2 separate regions of the Homo sapiens genome follow, and region 2 is linked to region 1. The links come from fine-mapping of genetic effects on plasma protein levels. Region 1 holds a variant in brackets. A gene starts in the other region. All regions are shown on their forward strands.

Region 1 (9,300 bases):
TTGCAGATTCCACCCTCAAACATGTTGTAAGGACTCTTTATTCAAGGTAATGTTTGAACCCTGCTGAGCCAGTGGCATGGGTCTCTGAGAGAATCATTAACTTAATTTGACTATCTGGTTTGTGGATGCGTTTACTCTCATGTAAGTCAACAACATCCTGGGATTGGGACCCACTTTCTGGGCACTGCTGGCCAGTCCCAAAATGGAACATAAGGAAGTGGTTCTTCTACTTCTTTTATTTCTGAAATCAGGTAAGACATAGTTTTTTTAAATTATAAGAATTATTTTTTCTCCCACAATGTAGTAAAAATACATATGCCATGGCTTTATGTGCAATTCATTTAATTTTTGATTCATGAAACTTCCAGTTGAAAATCTTGTATAAGATTGAGGAATTCTTCAAGAAATAAGTTTAAGTTTCCTGTGAAGATTGTCAGGGTGCTGGAATGAATGGGCAGAGAAAATAATGGGTGATTTTTCAAATCTAAATGAGTGCACCCACATAATGGCCAGTCTAATTGAAAAAGAGCCAATGTAGCTAATTATGCAAAGGACGGCTAAGCTCTTTGCCTGGTTCTCAGTTTGACTAATTTATATCATCTCTGTTACGGTGTCATGCTCCCCTCACTTGCAAGTTAAAACAGTGAAATATCTCTTTGAATATATTCCGTTCTCTCACCAGTTCATGGTGGCGGCAGGGTCGGGGACTCAGCATTTCTCCCTTTGTTATGGCCTGAGGAAGGCTTTCCATCAGTATACGTTTGCCTCTTATCCCCGGAAAAATCACACGCATCCATTTGCCAGATGCTGTGTGCAGATAGTGATCAACAAATACTCAGTTGCTTGGGTTAGGTCCCTACATTTTTACACATACATACATACCTGTGTGTGAATGTGAGTGTGAGTGTGTATCCTTTACAAATACTAGCTTATTTAGCTCGTGGTATAGGTAGGGTAGCATATTCATCCTCATTTTATAAACAAAGAAATCAGACTTAGGAATATCATGTTATTTGCTCAGTGACCAAATTCTCAGATCTGGGAAATAAAGAAAACTGGATTTAAGCCAGGTTTCCCAGAAGGAATCTAGGGCTCTTCTCACTTTTCAGCTTTGTTTAAGCCTTTGAAAGAATATTCTAAACATGTCCTAGTACTTCTTTTTCTTTAAAAAAAAAAAAGCTTTATTGAGATATAATTAACATATAGAATTCACCCATTTAGGCATACAATCCAATGGATTTCAAGATATTGAGAGTTGTGCAGCCACCATCAGAATAAATTTTAAAACTATTCATACCCCCAAAAACGCACTCCACTCTCCTTAGCTGTTACCCCCAATCTGCAGCTTCTGGCAACCACTAATCTACTTTCTGTATTTATATCTTTGCCATTTTGAACATTTCATACAAACGGAATCATACGATTTGCTAGTAGTTCTTCATGTAAATAATGTACGCTTGAAATTCAATCTATAAATTACCAGATAAAATTTTACAAGTTGCACTTTAGAGTCAAATACATTTGAATTTAGTGGAAGCCATTCAAGGAGCTATCAAAGAAAATACAGAGCAGGAGAAAATTAAAGAAATTTTTGTAAGAAATTGGTGTATGTTGGGGGGTATGAATATTATATTTCAATGCATGGAAACTAGGACATAGATCACTATGAACTTATTCAGTGGGCTACACCCAAAGGCTAGATCAAACTTCTCTGCCACAGGATTAACATATGTTTTAACCCACCTGGTGGGCACATTCTCTCATAAGCTCTTTTGGAAAGCCAGGTTTTCTGTGGATGTATCATCTTTCCAGTGTGCTGCAATGCCCGGGGAGAGGGAAAAGTTTCTTTTACAGCCATGCTTAGTGGGAAGTGGAGAAACATCTTCCATTTCACAAATTAAGTCTTTTACACATGCAAATATGCATACACATTCACACACCACAGTGAGGAAGAAATTCTCACACCATTAATAAAATACATTTGCATCAGTAGCAATATACATCTGCATTTTGCCTATAATATAAATGTATTTTTCCACTAAAAGATTTGTTTGATGTTTCCTTGCCAGCAAATAAGCCCTATCAAATCCTATTGCCATATGAGTCCTAGAGGTGAATAAGAGAAGAAAAAATGGGGGAAAATTATTTCAAACTGAAAAGAGAAAAGTTTGATTCTGTTTTGGGATATTTCCTAGGGACATGAGCTGGGGAGGGGATCTCAGCAGCGATGCGCTATGAAGCATAGTAACATAACACAGAGAACTTAATTGAAGGGGGAAATAAATGGAAGTTTTCTTTTTTTGAATATCAGTTGTAGCCTGCTCTGCTATACTTCAAAAAAACTCTTCAGAAAGTTTAACTGAACTCACTGTAGGACACACTTTGTGGATTTATTGTGTGTTTTGAAGTCACACTGTGAGCTATATAGAATTAACCAAAACACAACTCTTCTTGAAAATGAGAGTTCAAGTTGGCAGAAAGTGCGGGGTAAAGACATGGATATGGGCCTAAAGCATCTATTTCTTTGTGATCTTTTGATATATCTCTCAAGTGCTTTTTAGTGGATTAGCTTTAGAATGCATCAGCCAACTCCTGCTCAATAATCCATTTTTCCAGCCCGGAATGTCTTAAATTGAGGAAGGACAAAGTCCCAGAGGTGGGGAGCAGGGGGACTTTGGCCGAGGACTTTGCATGAATCGATGAGCATGCATCCACCTCCCTGTCCTGCCCCTTGTGCTCTGTGTACCCTCAGGAGGTCAGGACAGGCCTTTCTGAGAATGAAAATCTGTTCATTTGCTTTCCTACTGGATACTTGTCATCAGCATACAAACCAATGCGCTCTGCAGTGTGTCATCTTTCAGAACCTCCCCTGACCGCATGTTCCCTGGAGGGCTCGCTGTCTTCAGAGCCAGGCTTGTCTCCTGCTGCAGCCTCCACTGCTCTCCTAGTCACTCTGTAACCCACCCCCTCTGCCTGCGGCCCCCACCACGCCCCTCAAAGTGGTCAAGGTTGTCCTGTTGTCTAATTCCATGGAGCTTGCCTGTCTTCATTTTATTAGCCTCTTTTGGCCTCTCACCCTTGTGCAAATCACTAGCATTCTGTGCCAAGGACGGAGCTGGCATCTCCAGGCTTGGAATAGAGCTACCAAAGCTCAGCCAGATGTCTGGAAGAGCCTCAGGACAAGGGGACACCCTGTAGCCTTGTGGTGGGAGCACAGCTGAGGCCCCCTTGGCCACCCTCTGCCACGACCAGGCAGAAAGCAGCTTTCGGACAGATTCGTTGTCTCAGATTTGATCTCAAAGAAAAACCAAGACCAGTATTTGTCCCAGGTCCTGCTTTTTTACAATTTCCTCCGAAATCCAGATACCTGTCAACACCTTGGAAAAACTGACTTCTCCCCAATTAGTAGTGTTGTGTGACTGTCATAAGCCCAGTACAAAAATGGCCTTCTTTGTTGGGGAGCTTCTTACCCTCCAGTGTTTTGCCCAATTTTTGTCCAAGGTGGCAACATAATTTAGTTCAGTTCTTGTTTATTTCCACCATCATCTATGCACCAAAATTTATGTTTCTCAAGGAGGGACCATTCAGAGGATGCTTCCCACCGGTTCAAGTGACAGTGCCAGAACCAAAGCGCATATTGTAGGAAATCAAACAATGGCCTCCAAGTTCCATTTCTACCCAGGGATGAACAAATCAACATCAATCTTGGTAACACAACTGCCACTGATGGTGCCTTACTCTTCTCTCATGACATGGCACAATCAATAGCAAACATAAAATTTGTTCTTGTTTAAGGATTTATATCCACTAATATGGTAACATAGTAGTGGTTCCATAGTTCTAACCTGTTTGTCAATCCAGTTAATCTTTTACTATCTTGCAATCTGCTAATGAAACTGTTTTTCTTTGTTTTATAATTTCAACTTTTAGAGTCAGGGGTACATGTGCAGGTGTGTTACATAACTAAATTGCGTGACACTGAGCTTTGGGGTACAAATGATCCCATCACCCAGGTAGTGAGCTAAATACCTACTAAATAGGTAGTTTTTCAGCCCTTGCCTTGCTCCCTCTCTCCCTTCTCTGGTAGTCCCCAGTGTCTTTAGTTGCCATCTTTATTTATGTCCAAATGCCCGACTGTGTGTTCTTAACTAAACATTTTGATTCATAGCTACCCATTCTACTTCCAGTAAACAGAAAGTTTTATTTGGTTAATGCTAACCAAATAGATTAAAAGGAAGTCATGACAATTAGACATTGACATTGATTTACTGACCATTTATTCCACTTGGATCTCCCACCTCTAGGTCAAGGAGAGCCTCTGGATGACTATGTGAATACCCAGGGGGCTTCACTGTTCAGTGTCACT[A/G]AGAAGCAGCTGGGAGCAGGAAGTATAGAAGAATGTGCAGCAAAATGTGAGGAGGACGAAGAATTCACCTGCAGGTATTTCCATTGTCGTTGCACCTACGCAGGAATCTGTAATTCAGATGGCAAGTAATTTACTCACAAATTTATTAATGATTTAAGAGGAAAGAGAAATTTATGGAGCCAGAGTTTGGAACTATATTTGCTCACAGTATGTGAAGCCATACTAACAGCTTCTTGTTAAGGTTTATTGGAGTCTTTGTTAGAAAAATACCCTCAAAGGAAGTTATTTGTTTTTACACCGGACACAAACATTAGCAGTTATTGTTCTGAGCTCCAGTTTTCAACATCATCATCAGTAAATGTTTGTTGAGGATCAGGTGAATGAAAGTGTCCTAGATAGATCTGAGCAATGACTTATAGCTACAAGATCCAGTGCCTGCCCTTTAGTATTTAAGGTGTAGTCAAAGAAACTGGATATAATGTTAAAAAAAAAAAAAAGACAGCCCAAGTGAGGTACAGGCATAATCAATGCATGCTCTACCCAGATCCAGAAGAAAGAACAGTGCCTAAGGTTGAGGCAGCTAGAGAAGGCTCAGGGAGGAGGTGGGAACTGAGCTGGGTTTGGAGTTGAGAGAGCTCTTGACAAGCACCAGGAAGGCAGGGGAAGATGCGGCCCTGCACCTTCTGAGGGGGACCATTAAGAGATGAAGTTGACTAAAGCAGAGACTTTGTGTAGGTGACGGGCTTGGGAAGGTAGCTATGGAATCCAGACTGAGCACCCATAGCAGGACCACGGGATGGAGATGGGAGGGGTCAGGGGCCAGGGTGGGGTGGAATGTGGAGCAGAGGTTCAGGGGAACTGATCAGAGTTGGGAGGTCATGGAGACGGACTATCTTGGCGAATGGGTTCAAAGCAACCAGAGTTGCTTCTTTCCAACCCAAAAACAAAAATTAAGAAGATGAGTGAAGAAGAAGTAAAGCAGTTGAAACAGGAAGAAAGGGAAAATTATGAGGGAGGGAAGGTAAGGGCAGATAAGATTTGCTGCCACGTTGGTGTATTTTGTTCAGTACTTCATCGATGCCATGCCCAAATAACTGAAAGAGGCAGCAATTCTGAGCTCTCTGGTCCCTCAAGATATTCAATGATCTTTAGCATGTCTCACTTATTAATAAACATTTGTTTTCTTTAAATAAAGAAAAATACTTATTGGATTTCCTGCTTCGTTCTGCAGGGCATTCCAATATCACAGTAAAGAGCAACAATGTGTGATAATGGCTGAAAACAGGAAGTCCTCCATAATCATTAGGATGAGAGATGTAGTTTTATTTGAAAAGAAAGGTGAGTACATTTTCTTCCTCCTCCTCCTACTGTCCTCCCCATCCTCCCACTCTTCCTCTTTCTCTATTCTATCTTTAATTTATAAGACCAGAGGAGGAAGGCACTATCGTGTTATAAAACTGAATTCTGAGTTAGGACAGGATTTGATTACTAACTAACCATGTCAGCTTGAGTGTATTACTTCACCTCTTAGATTTAATTTTTTTTGTTCAAAAGATGAAAGGATTAGATTTACAAAATCACTTCTACCTCTATGACCCTGAAAATAAGATTTTTAAAATATTATTTTATATTTAACAAGGAGATGGGAAGTCTAAGCATTCCTTTTGGTCTTGGCTTCTTATTCTGCAGGGTGACCATGGTCCTTGGGCCCTAACATCTGGATGAAGCCTTGTAAAACAGAAATACTGAGGTGTTTTAATCCTCAGAAACATTTAGATTGGGACACAAATCTTATTTTTACTCTTAAATTTTTCACATTTTGGGGGACATGGTCTATATTTTTCTCAGATTTCTGAAATGTTGTCTTTTAAAAATGTGTAAAAGTTACAGTTCCTTTTCTATAGTTTATTTTAAAATGTGGGTCAATAGTCCCACTGCTTAGAATAAGAGGCAGACAGGATTTCAATAGAAATTGCATGCCTTTTTAGATGTGCAAATGTTTCATTAAGCATTTCCCATCAAGTATATCCCATCAAGTATGCTCCCATTAAGCATATCCCATCAAGTATAAATATTTGAAGGGATGCATGACACTTTAAAAACTGTTTCCTCTACTGTGTTGGTAGCCAGGTATTAAGACTGTTAATAGTAACAATTTAGCTCTCCAAACATTCTGCATCCCAGGTGTTAAAGAGGACTGGAAACACCTTAGTTCTTGTATTCTTGAGGATGATTTGCCATATTGTGTCTAGTATTACGGCAAAACTCTAAGTAGCATTTTAAATAGTATTTATTTGGGTTGGAATTATTTCTATGCATTGACTCATCTTCCTGGGTTTCATTAGCTGTACGCATTGTACTTCCTTCCTTACCACTATTTATCTCGAATTCTTGAGATTAAAGTGCAGATTAAATCTAAACTTTATCTGGTGAAGTTATTAGTTCTTACAAGTAGCAAGCAAACGGTAAACTAAATAGGATCACCTAATTGTACCAGATTTTAAAAAAAAAAAACCCTGATTCTCCTGATTCTCTCTACAAAATGCTAACATTTAAATATGTCATTTGTAAATTGTTAACCAGAAGGAACATGGGAATGACTGTAGGTTGAGTTTGAAGTCTGAAGTTTGAAGGCTTAGTTTGCTTGTTTTCAAAGTGACAGAAGGGAGCAAAAGGTTATATAAACTCTGATGGGTACATACAAAAAAAAAAGAAGTGAAAAGTCAAAAGTCAGTCATTTTTTGGTCCTTGTTTCTTTGCTGTGGGATATTGACCTGCTACTAACTTACCTGCCAGGGTTTTGCCAGGAACAGTCAGTGTTAGATCACATTTACTTCTGCCACTTGCCACCAGCCACACTGCCTTCACCAAGTCCAAGACCCTATCACCACTGGTTGGGGCTACTTGTAGCTGTACACATGATCTCTAAGAAATGTAACTTCCCTGTTTAAAGCCCTTCCTAGTGCCCTTAAAATAAGACCCAAAGACTTCCCAAATGTGCTAGGGCCCAGCATTATTTAAGTAACCCCCAGCTGCTGTTTGCTTGGCTTGCTAAACTTTTCTACACTGGCCTTACTTCTGTTCCTTCACCACCCCAAGCACACACCCTCCTGCCTGGGACCCTCTTCACCTTTGTCCTGCTGTGCCAGCTCCTTCTTATCTCCTAGGTGTCAGCTCAATCATCATGTCCTTTGCAAATCTTCCTTGACCCCTAGACCTCCCTTTCACAAAGTACCTTGAGTTTACACTTTTGATGAGTGTCTTATGTCTACTGTAATACTATGTCCCAATGAAGATGTACTTGCAATCATAATACGCAGTATTGGGTTAAAAGCATTAGTTTGCTGTAGGTATGTTAGGAGCACTTTCCCCATGTGATTGATCAATTAATTAAAAAATGGCTAAAGTGGGTAACCTTAAATGATGGTGTAAATATACCTTAAACATTTTATATTTTCATTGAAAACACAAGTGTACTTGACACCTTTTGACGTAGAGCAGAGGCTTTTCTTCTTCGAATATGGGGTCACCAGTAGAAGGTCTCTGGTGTATTTCCTGCATAAACTATGCTCCAGTGCAACATCTACAATAATTACTTTCCTTATTTTTGAAGTGGACCATATCTCGACATTTATTAATCAATCTGAATGTGTAAAACCTTTAGATTTTTATGAATTCCTCCTCAAGCTTTATAGTCAACTATATGAGTGGATTGCCCTCTGTGGATTTGATAGCAATTTTTTAAATGATTCATGTTTCAACTTGTTAAAAACATTTAATTTAGTTAAAAACCAAACAAAAAAGAGCTTTGTTTCTTTTCACATTCATTTCTCAGTTTAGATCATCTTTAATTAAATATAAATGTAAGAAAGTTGGAAAATGCAAAGAAATGACTCGTTGTAAGCACATAACTCACGTGGGGGGAACAGACATGGGTGGGCACACTAGCAAACACCTGCCAGCTGCATGTGGACCCAGGTGGGCACCGGACTGTTTTAAACACAGGAGAGGGCCCGTTGTCTAACTGGTGAGTTGGTTGAGTGGAAGCTGGTTGAGAACTTTTACTGCAAACCATTTACAGTAGACCACAATTTTATAGCCCTGTTTGGCACTTTTTCATATCACTGGGAGCCTGAAGAAATAGAAGTGGGTTGGATCTCTTTCAGCCTCTGAAAAGCCTGCCATTCCCCCATCTAAAAAGCCCTTTCCCCATTCTCTCACTCTGTCTCATCATGTATGTAATATGTATCATCATTAAGTGATCTCATTTTATATTGTTTCCTTGAATATTTCCTGTAACCCCCCTGCCTGATTCCACTAGAATGTAAGCTCCATGACGGCCAAGCCTCTGGCTGCACTGTGCCCCGTGTGTCCCCAGCATCCTGGTGGGGCTCGATACACAGAGAGCTCATAAGTAGCATTTGAATACATGAATCAAAGAATGGCTCAGTTTACTGCAGCCTTTTTGCAGATGCAAAAGATGATCTTTTAGAAAGCAGAAACAGGGGGTCTGGTGCATGAGATCTTTTTCTCAACGTGACTATGCTGTGCAGACCTTCATGTGGTGTCTTGTGAAAGACTTTGACCACTGTGTGGACTTCCCTTCAGTGTATCTCTCAGAGTGCAAGACTGGGAATGGAAAGAACTACAGAGGGACGATGTCCAAAACAAAAAATGGCATCACCTGTCAAAAATGGAGTTCCACTTCTCCCCACAGACCTAGGTAAGACATTCCCTTTCATCTTTGTGTTCATCTACTGTAAAGTTGTCCCTCTGTGTCTGTGAGGGATTGGTTCCAGGACCCCTGTGGCTACCAAAATCCATGCTTCTCAAGTCCCTTATATAAAATGGTGCAGTATTTGCATATAACCTACATACCTTCTCTTGTATAATCCCTAATATAATGTAAATGCTATTTAATCGTTGTTATACTG
Region 2 (9,086 bases), not on the chromosome of region 1:
GCTGCTTGGAGTGTGTCCCGGCTCAGGGGTGGCTGCAAAGGCACTCAGGCTGCTGCCCATGCACTTGTCTACCTTCCTGTACAGTCAGCCCCTTTATATATGGCATGAAATTCATCTCTCTGTCCAACAGTTGTTAAGAGGCCCTTGTGAGCTAACCTCTGAATGGGAAGAAATAATTCTCCCTTCCCAGCTGCCAGTCTAATTCAGAACGTGTCCACAAATCCAGGGCACAGAAACAAACGGAAACACAGAACTGTACAACTATAAAAGTATTTGCACAAAGCCAAAACATCTTCCTTCTTTCTCTCTCTTTGGCATTTATTTCAGACCCACAGTGATTTTTTACAAAAGATCGTAGCTCACCTTGTCGATGAAGGAGGCAAACTTATTGTTGAGGGTCTTGATCTGCTCGCGCTCCTCGGTCCTCACCCTCTGGATGCTGGGGTCGATTTGCAGGTTGAGGGGAGTCAGGAGACTCTGGTTGACAGTGACCTCTTGGATACCTCCAGGAGGGCAGACAGGAAAGCCAGGGCCACCGAAGCCACCTCCAAAGCCAGCTCCGCCACCGAGCCCAAAGCCACCACCAGCTCCACCGCCGAAACCAAATCCACTACCGGCACCACCTCCAAAGCCATAGCCGCCTCCAGCACCAGCACCAAACCGGTTCCTGAAGCTGCCACCACTAGTGCTGATGGATATCCTCTTGGAGCCCCCCAGGTTGTAGAGGCTCCGGCTGCCATAGCCACCCACTCCACAAGCACCCGCAAGGCTGACCCTGCCGAAGCCACCACCACCGCCACCCCCGGACCGGGACACGGAGGTGAAGCTGGTGCGGGAGACAGACGGGGTGATGGCAGAGGCGGTGCTGAAGCTACGACTGCCCCCGCTCCGGAAGGACACACTTGACTGGCGAGACATGGTGGCTTGTTCCTGGTGGAGCAAGAGAACCAGGCACTAGTGGGTTGGGAGGTGCTGGAGAGAACAGAGCTCAGCAGGACGCAGAAGGTGGCTCTGTTACCCAGGAACGGTGATGCCCCCTTTTTATCCCTTCCAGAACTGGGCTGGGCGAGAGAGCTGTCGAGCTGTGAATGATTAAGTGGGCTGGGCATGCCTGGGGGGCAGCTGTGAGCTCACCGGTCACACCTGCACAGTGGTGTGGGGTGCAAACGCTTTCTTCCTGGCAGGCTCTGCTCAGTTAGAAATAACCTTGCCTTGCAGCACTGATCTCTTGGCAGCAAGTTGGTGACGCTGCTAGCAAGTATGTCTTCACCATAGAGGCTGGGGGCTGTGAGCAGCCCAAAAAGGATGCCAGGAACTGAGGGGGCATTGGCATGGCCAGTGTCCTGGGGACTCTTACAGGACCAGGAGTATTGACAACCATCCCAGTACGGTACATGCTGAGCACCTGCCCTTCCAGCTTGGGGAAGCTGTCCATCAGCGGGGGGCAAACGATTCCCCAGTGATCTGCTCTTACACTTTTCCAGGCAGCAGGTTGCTGCAGGGTTTTCCCCTCTGGGAAAGGCAATCTGTAGCCTTATATTCTTGGTTATGTGCTAGAGGGAAAATAGAGTTTCATCCTTTTCTGCACAATTTTTTTCTTAGGGAAGGCACAGCTATCCCAGAGCCCACTGGGCAGATCTGCCTGCAAGGTTTAGGCCAGAGAATGTGGGAAGCCCTCAGCGCCCCCTATAAACCACTTTGACCTCTTTAAGGCCAGGTTTATCCTTCCATAGCTCCTCCTAACTCAGCATTTTTTCTGCCCTTTGACCTTTTCCTTGCTCTTTGGCCTGGGCAGGACTCTGTGGGGGGTTTAGGAAACCCGGGGATCCCATGCAATCCCTTAAAAAAAAACCCTGAGACTCATGGGCTATAGCGTCTCTCTTTGGGGGTAGCTACTCTGCCGGTTCCCCAGCCCCCCAGGTGTGTTCCAGCAAGCTCTATTCCACTAGGGAAGAAATGAGTCATCGTATGTGTTGATACAGGCTGAAGGCCGCCACAAACACATACCTGCAGGAGCTTCTAATCTCATCAGGAACATGTTGAGAGTCTGACGGCCTGTTATAACGGCGAACCACCCTGTTCCAAGCAGCGGGACTTGCTCTGCTTTCTCTATGCTGTAGCCCACAGCCTCCTTCAGGGCCAAGGCAATGGAAAACGGGATTCTAAGTCTATGGATTGTCCTGCCAGAAAGGCTAGCCAGAGCAGGCCTGTGGGCCCAGGCAGCTGGCATGACAATCTGCCAGCTGCTTTAGGGAGGGCCCTTTGAGATCCCCTCTGCAAAACTTGTCTGGGGGGTTGTGGCACCAGGTGGAGGAAAGGGGGTTTCTGATGAGGTTTTAACACACGTCTGTTCTAAACCACACCCACTCTTTTTGGCAGCAGATCTGAGTGGGGCCACCTCTCTGCCGTCCCCCAAATAGAAGCAGGGCTCTCAGGCAGGACAGTGCTTGGGCTGTTCAGAGTTTCGGGGGCGCCCTGTGGCCCGAGGCTGGAGGTAGGAATGCAATGGGGATGGCTTCAAAGCCTCAGGGAGGAGGGGCTATATTCTCAAGAGTAGAAGAACAGGACCAGACCCAGGCTCAGGAATCTCTCACCAGGGCCTGCGGTTGGCCACAAGGAAGCCAAGGCAGTGGGAAAATGACTCCCTGGTGCTGAGGATCAGCTGAAACAGTGACTTCTCACCAGAGGGCTGCGATGAGCAAGCAGCTGACAGGTCAATCTCGGCAGACAGACCAATGGCCGGAGCCGGTCTTACAGGTCTTGAGCAAAATGGTTTGGGTGGCCTCCCTGGCTGGAGCATTTCTGAGACCCTCAGAGATGAATTGTGCTGAGCTCACCATTTTCACATTTGGTTGCTTTCTGGAGAACAGATGTGAGTGTCCTGGAGGCCTGAGACATACCAGGGGACCCTCGGCTCCTGATAGAACAGAACAGATCCAAGCCTGAAGCAAGTGTCTGAGGACTCGTAGTGGGATGCTCCTGCTCCACTCAAAGATCGATATCGGGGTATATCCCCACCACCACATACACTCACAGGTCCCGGGTACAGACCTCACTGCCCTCAGGGAAGCCCCACCCCTCCTGAGACACTGGGACATTCTCTTCTCCCCATTCATTCTCCTCCCAGCTGTGTTGTGAAGAAAGAGGACTTGGCAGAGCAGGAATGCGTTCTGGCTAGTCTGAGGATTGCTAGAGTGTGCCAAGCTCAGATCCATGTGCCAGGGACCAACGGTGAGTGTGTGGTGCTCCATGGGAGCAGGGAGCATGTGGGTGCTCCATGGGAGAAGCAGCAGCACTCTTCTATCCGAGCTTCGTGGGAATCCTCCCATGAGCAGGCAGGGCAGCCCCTCCCTCAATGCCAGACCTGGACAGGTATAAATAATGGAGCCGCTCCTGGTGGGGAGCCAGGCACCAGCACCACTGCAGCTCGGGAGAGTCCCACCCCAGCCTGGAATTTCACTGTGGCAGGAAGGGAGGGATTGTGTTAGGCTCACCAGGGAGCTTTCCTGCTGGGCACCCCACAGAGGCAGTTCCCAGGCTTGGTGGGACATGTTGCTCAGCTTCTCCTCTGGGTGCTGCTTTCCTTGTCAGCAGAAGACAGTGCAGGGCCCGCCCTGCTGCTCTCCCCATCAGAGAAAGGACAGTAAGCTGGCTGCCCTGACCTCTCTCGCAGAGCTGTGCAGGGAATGTAGGACCTGGTCAGCATTTCATACATGGAGAAGCCCTTCACAGACACCAGGGAGAGGGTGGTATCCATTCGTGGAACAAGGGTTAGGCAAATCCTGCCATCCCAGCCCAGGATTCCTTCTCCTCAGAGCCTCCACTCCAATCTGTAGGGCTTTAGTAGAAGATACATTTAATAGAGCATGATAAATAGAACATGTTCCATAAAACAGCATTTGTACATATCCTCTAAGTCCCCCCCAGCAGGGCAGTCTCCAAGGTTAGGGAACATCTCTGCATGGCCCACACCCTCAGCCCAGCCTTGGGCACTGGAAGTGTTCTGCAGATATTTTTTGGAGTGAATTGACAGACAGAAAATCCTCTTCCTCCGCTCCTTCCCCAGATTGTTATGTGAAGCCCACAATGGCAAGAACCTCAATTGCTTTTGCACCAACCTATATCTACACCAACCTATGTATAACAGAATGTATATACATTATATATATTCACATATATTTCTGTGAATCCTCCAGCCCTATGCTGAGTCTCAGAGTCTTGTCCATCTGATTTTGTCTCTCAGTCCGTGTCTACAGGATGAGTCTGTTGTCCCCTTCACACTGGGTATGCTCTGTGTTTAGGATTTAGGATTTAATCTAGCATTTAGGATTCTTTATTCCTTAGGCTTCCCTCCATCCTTCTTCTTCCCTCACCCTTATTCTGAGGGTGTTCTGCATCTGAGCCCACTAACAAGTAGCCTGCACGTGCCACCCCAGCCCCCAGGCCCCTCCAGGAGAGAAAGAAAGCTTTAGTGGCCTCAACTTTGCAGCCCTTCCACCTCACGCTTGTTCAGCACAAAAAGTGGGGAGCAATAGTTGAGGTGTGAGTCACCCTATTCATTGGGCTATGGTTGGCAGCCCCATCAGGGAGCCTGCAGCCAGATTCGCAGGATGGGGAAGGGCAGATGGAACAGCGGGCCAGCCCAAGATAGCTCTTCACAAAGCCCTAGCCTCAGGGGGAATTGAGGGAAGAATTTTCCTGCCTCCACCCAAAGCCAGCGGAATCTTGCCCCCATCCCAACCTGGGTCCCAGCTCTGGTCCTAGCTAGATTCTCAGAATCACAGGGCCCTGAGGGGAGTGGCCACTCTGGATCTGCAGAGCTGGACACACCACCCCCTCCCTCCTACAGCCCAATGTCTCTAGGGCTTTCAGACCCCAGTCTGAAAACCGGACTAGGTAGAAAGGCAAATGTCCAGACATAAAGCAACTGCTCAGCCTTGGCTCAGAGGGCCTTTGGAGGTGAGTCCCTGCTGCCATTATTGAGGTCATAGTGACAAGTTACCCCCTGGAGTTGAGTTTTTCTTGTGCACGGGCTTCGCACACATTGTGGGTCACAGCATAGGTGCAAAAGCATGTGGCACCACTCCAGACCATGTGTTGGTCCTGACCCAGTCCTTGGATGGGTCTGGGACCCTGAGCAAGTTGCCTAACCTCTCACTGCATAGTTTTGTCCAGTGCAGCTGGGAGAGAAGGGAGGGGCCTGGGCTCATTGGAGGGGCCATGCAAGCTGGAATTTTAATTTTGAGCTGGCTGGGGCTGAGCAGGAAGGGAGGGGCAGGCCTGCAGGGGGCTGTGGGGAGCAGCCTTGGCCCCCATCCCTTAGATTCAGCAGCCGATTGGCCCTGGCAGGAGAGGGTGCAGAGCAGAGCCCTCCGCTTCCCTCCAGCAGGCCCCTGCAAGTCTGAGGAATGTTCTTCCCTCGTATGAAAGGTGTTTTGCTCATGGCACACCAAACTCTTTGAAAATCCCCCTTGGTTGATTGAAACTATGGGCTGGAAATCAACAAATACTTTAATTAGTCAGAGGGACTAAAAAAGGATATACAGCAAAATCCTCTGCGCTTTGCTTTCTCATAGAGGGTGGTTTTATTTTTTAAATAAACACTTACGTAGGAGTGACCATGTGCCAGGCACTGCCCTGCACACTTTACATATATGAATATGAAACTAGAGCATGCAAAGAAGGGCTCTTAGCACTTCCTCAGCTTGGCTGTCCAATGTAGGTGTCAGTGTGTCCCATACTCTGGGGATTTGCAGCCTCCCTCTTCAGTGGAGAGGCAGAGACATGACTCATTTACACCAGGTTGTATCCCTGCAGCATCAGAGGTGCAGAAGGAAGCTTGCTGACATCCCCAACTCACCCACTGTTCCATTTCTCCCTGCTACTTTCTGTTCTCTCACCAGTAGCCACAACTGGGAACGGGGAGGCAGAGGAGACGCTACAGCTGCCCCCCTCCCCAAGTTTGTGTTTGGCTCAGGGCTTCCTGGTCCTGGGAGGGAGGGCAAGTGCCGGAGACAGAGCCTTATTCCATCTGGCTTTCCTGCTTTGGGTGAGCACTGATCATGGGTGGGGGGAAGGTGGGGTGAGTCAGGTGAGCTCTGATCATGGGTGGAGGGCAGGTGGGGTGAATCAGTACAGAAGGTGGTAATATGGTGAGGGAGAAAAGAAAGTAAATGACAGCATTGAGGCTGGAGCTGTTGCCTCTCCCAGGGCCACCCTCAGGAAATGCACTCGGCATCTGCACAGTCCTCAAGGCCATGGGACACCTTGCTGGCCCCAGTCCCACCGTCTATGTGAGACTGTGACCCTGTGTCCTTCCCCATTTCCTCCCTCAGACTCCAGGACACACTCGCAGCTCCCATCTTCATGTTCCGTGAGCACATGTGAACACTGACCTGCTCACTGTCCACTTGGACCAACGATCACTGTTGAGGGTTTGTGAAAACAGGTTAAGGCTTCTTCCAAGGGAGACGCAGTGCAAAAAGCAACTGAGACAAGAGAGCGTGCAGGAGTGTTTCAATTCATGCCAGTCATTGAATCAGGTCCTGTTCCACATGTGTGACTTGGCCAAGGCAGATGCCATGCACTGGACTTCTGGACTCTGGTTGTGTGACCCTGTACCCTTCCCCATTTCCTCCCTCAGACTCCAGGACTGCGAACAGGGCTGGGTCTCCTCTAGGATCTCCTTACCAGACCCAGGATGGTGGCCCACACCACTTGACAGTGACGGGTCACTGTGCAAGGGCCGGGTTAGGGAAGCTGGCCTGACTTGGTTTCAGAGAAAAAAACCAGCCCAGTGATCCATCCATAGAGGAACAGGCTGAGTTCAGGGAGGTGGAGCCTAACGCCAAGCCCTTGGCAAGGTGAGGTGAGAGCCAAGCCTGGGTCCTGGTCCTGTCCCACACGCTGTTGTTGCCCTGCACTGCCCATCTGGGCCTCAGCAAGAGCCTACTTGTCTCCCAGTCCAAGGCTGCACGTCTCAGTCCTCTTCAGAGAGCCATTTCCCGAGGGCTGTGTGCATGACAGGGCTGACAGGTGACTGTGATGGGTGAGGGTGTTTTTACTGCTCCCCACCCCTCCCCTGTCCAGAGCCCTCATGTCCAGGTGCTGGTCTGGGTCTTTCCAGGGAGCAGACTGGCCTTCAAGCCTAAGTTAGCACCGAAGCCTGTTCCTCCAAGGCATTTGTCTGCTCTAGGCCATGAGGTCCCACCAGTCTGCAGACGCTGATCGCCTCTACTCCAGTGGCTGATAATAAGGAGTTAGAATTCACACATGACTCCCTCTGCCCGTGCCCAGAGCCTCACAGTACTTAGCTGGGCCTCCAGTCAAACCCACATCCTCTGTAACAGTTGTCAAGGACTCCCACTATTTCTTGCTCATTCACAAGTCCCTGGTCCCCAGGGCCTTTCGGCCTCACCTCCACTCTCCAGCCAGGTGGATCCCTTCACAGCCTCAACCCCATGTCGGCCGGTTCCCGATTTAATGTTAGAGGGTCAGTGCTCAGTGCTGGTTCTGCCTGCTCCCTCCCTCCCTACACTGTGCCTCCCCACTCCCATCTTCTCTGGCACAAAACGTGAAACAAGGACCCAGATGCCTTCTCTGGCAGTCTCTTGCAAATGGGGGAGATGTGGAGATGTATCTGACGATTTCTAGGCAGCTTGTCTCTCTGAAGTTCTGGACTTTCATGATCCCCAAAAAGCTCACAGCATGGGATGAGCCTGAGCCCTCGATGTGCTCTGTGGCTTGGTGAAAGATGACAGCAATCACCACACTTGAGTGGCACTGACTGTGAGCCAGGCATGGTTCTGGATGTATCAACTCATTTACTCCTCACAGCCTCGTGGGGTGGGCCTAATATGATCCCTGTTTTGCAGATGAGGAAACTGATGCCCTGAGAGGGTAAGCAACTGGCAAGTGACAGAGCCTAGGTAAGAGCCCAGGCAAGGGTGTCTCCAAAAGCCCTTGTCATCACCATTGTGGGCACTTGGATTTTCAGTGCAGGACTTGTGATTTGACTCTGAAGAGGATGACTTCAGCAGAGGCCTCAACCTCCGGATAGTCTGTGAAGGCAGCAAACAGAGAGGGCCCCAGATACCACTCAGCAGTCAGTATACCATAACATCTTCCAGCAGCCCCAAGAGAGAGGGACCCCTGCCCTGGAGTATAGACAGGGGAGGTGCCCTTGGAGACCCCCTCCCTTCTCTGAACTGCCAGAACCCAGGGCAGGACCACTAAGACTCTGGGGCAAGACTCAGGGGATTGGGGTTCCCTATAAAATCCTATACAATGTCCTCAAGGGGGAAGCCTGGGGATCGCCTGACACCCATCTCCCTCCTACCCTGGCACTAGGCCCAGGGCAAAGCCCAGATGCTTCCTGGGGCAGTCCTTCCAGATGCATGAGACGTGGCTAACAACTGCTGATACTTCCTAATACCTTGGGAGTAGCCCAGTGTCTTGGCCCAAGCTTCAGCGATTCGCTCTATTCCTCCCCTCTCCAAACCCCACAACCGCTTATGGCCAAGACACTCAAACAGGGCCCTGCAACACTTTGTTCAGGATGAGCAGAGGCCATGATCAGGAGAGTATGAAATGGAATAACCCAGCCTGAGCATTATTTGGCATTTTGGATCCTTTGGGATGGGCCAAACCACCCTGTGGCCTCTTAGAGACTGACCAGCTCCTTGCATGAGGCTGCCCCACTTAGAAAAGAAATTAGCACCATTCACTGAGATATGTAGCCTCGTTGCTTTTGGTGATACTGGACCTGATTTCCTCCAGCCCTTCTTTGAAGTGAATGGATACTGAGTGCTTACTGTGTGCCTGACATTGTGCCAAAATGTAGCATGCGTTATCTTACTTACTATTCATCCATATTCATCCACAGGTGATCAGCACTACTATTTGTCCCGTTTTCTGAGCCTCAGAAAGGAACATGTCTTACCTAAGCTCATATGGATAATATTTGTCAAAACTGGAATTTGACCCCAGGTCTGGCTGCTCCTAGAGCTTATGCTCTCAATCAGCACATAAGGGGAATTGCTGAGGGGACCCTGAAGAGCCAGTATCCCCGTCAGCAACATCAGCAG

Direction of the effects. Positions count from the first base shown, and alleles are read on the strand shown. Strength reflects both the effect of a copy and how common the allele is.
For the plasma level of the protein whose gene starts at base 1,016 in region 2, A is the high allele of the variant in region 1 and G is the other (moderate association).

What was found. PIP is the posterior inclusion probability: the model's chance that the variant is causal. The UK Biobank Pharma Proteomics Project read protein levels with antibody pairs (Olink). The fine-mapping took linkage between variants from a reference panel, not from the people measured, so its PIPs are less certain.
Region 2: KRT5 starts here. The variant in region 1 is fine-mapped to the plasma level of the KRT5 protein (UK Biobank, PIP above 0.99).

What each region holds. Positions count from the first base shown.
Region 1 is chr6:160,702,103-160,711,402 of GRCh38, forward strand. It overlaps PLG (plasminogen), which reads left to right and starts at 142. Exons shown (of 19, transcript NM_000301.5): 1 at 142-251; 2 at 4,305-4,440; 3 at 5,598-5,704; 4 at 8,975-9,089. The coding sequence starts at 203. The variant A/G (reference allele first, on the strand shown) is at 4,367.
Region 2 is chr12:52,519,379-52,528,464 of GRCh38, forward strand. It overlaps KRT5 (keratin 5), which reads right to left and starts at 1,016. Exons shown (of 9, transcript NM_000424.4): 1 at 364-1,016. The coding sequence starts at 918. RefSeq lists enhancers at 1-103, 2,923-3,888.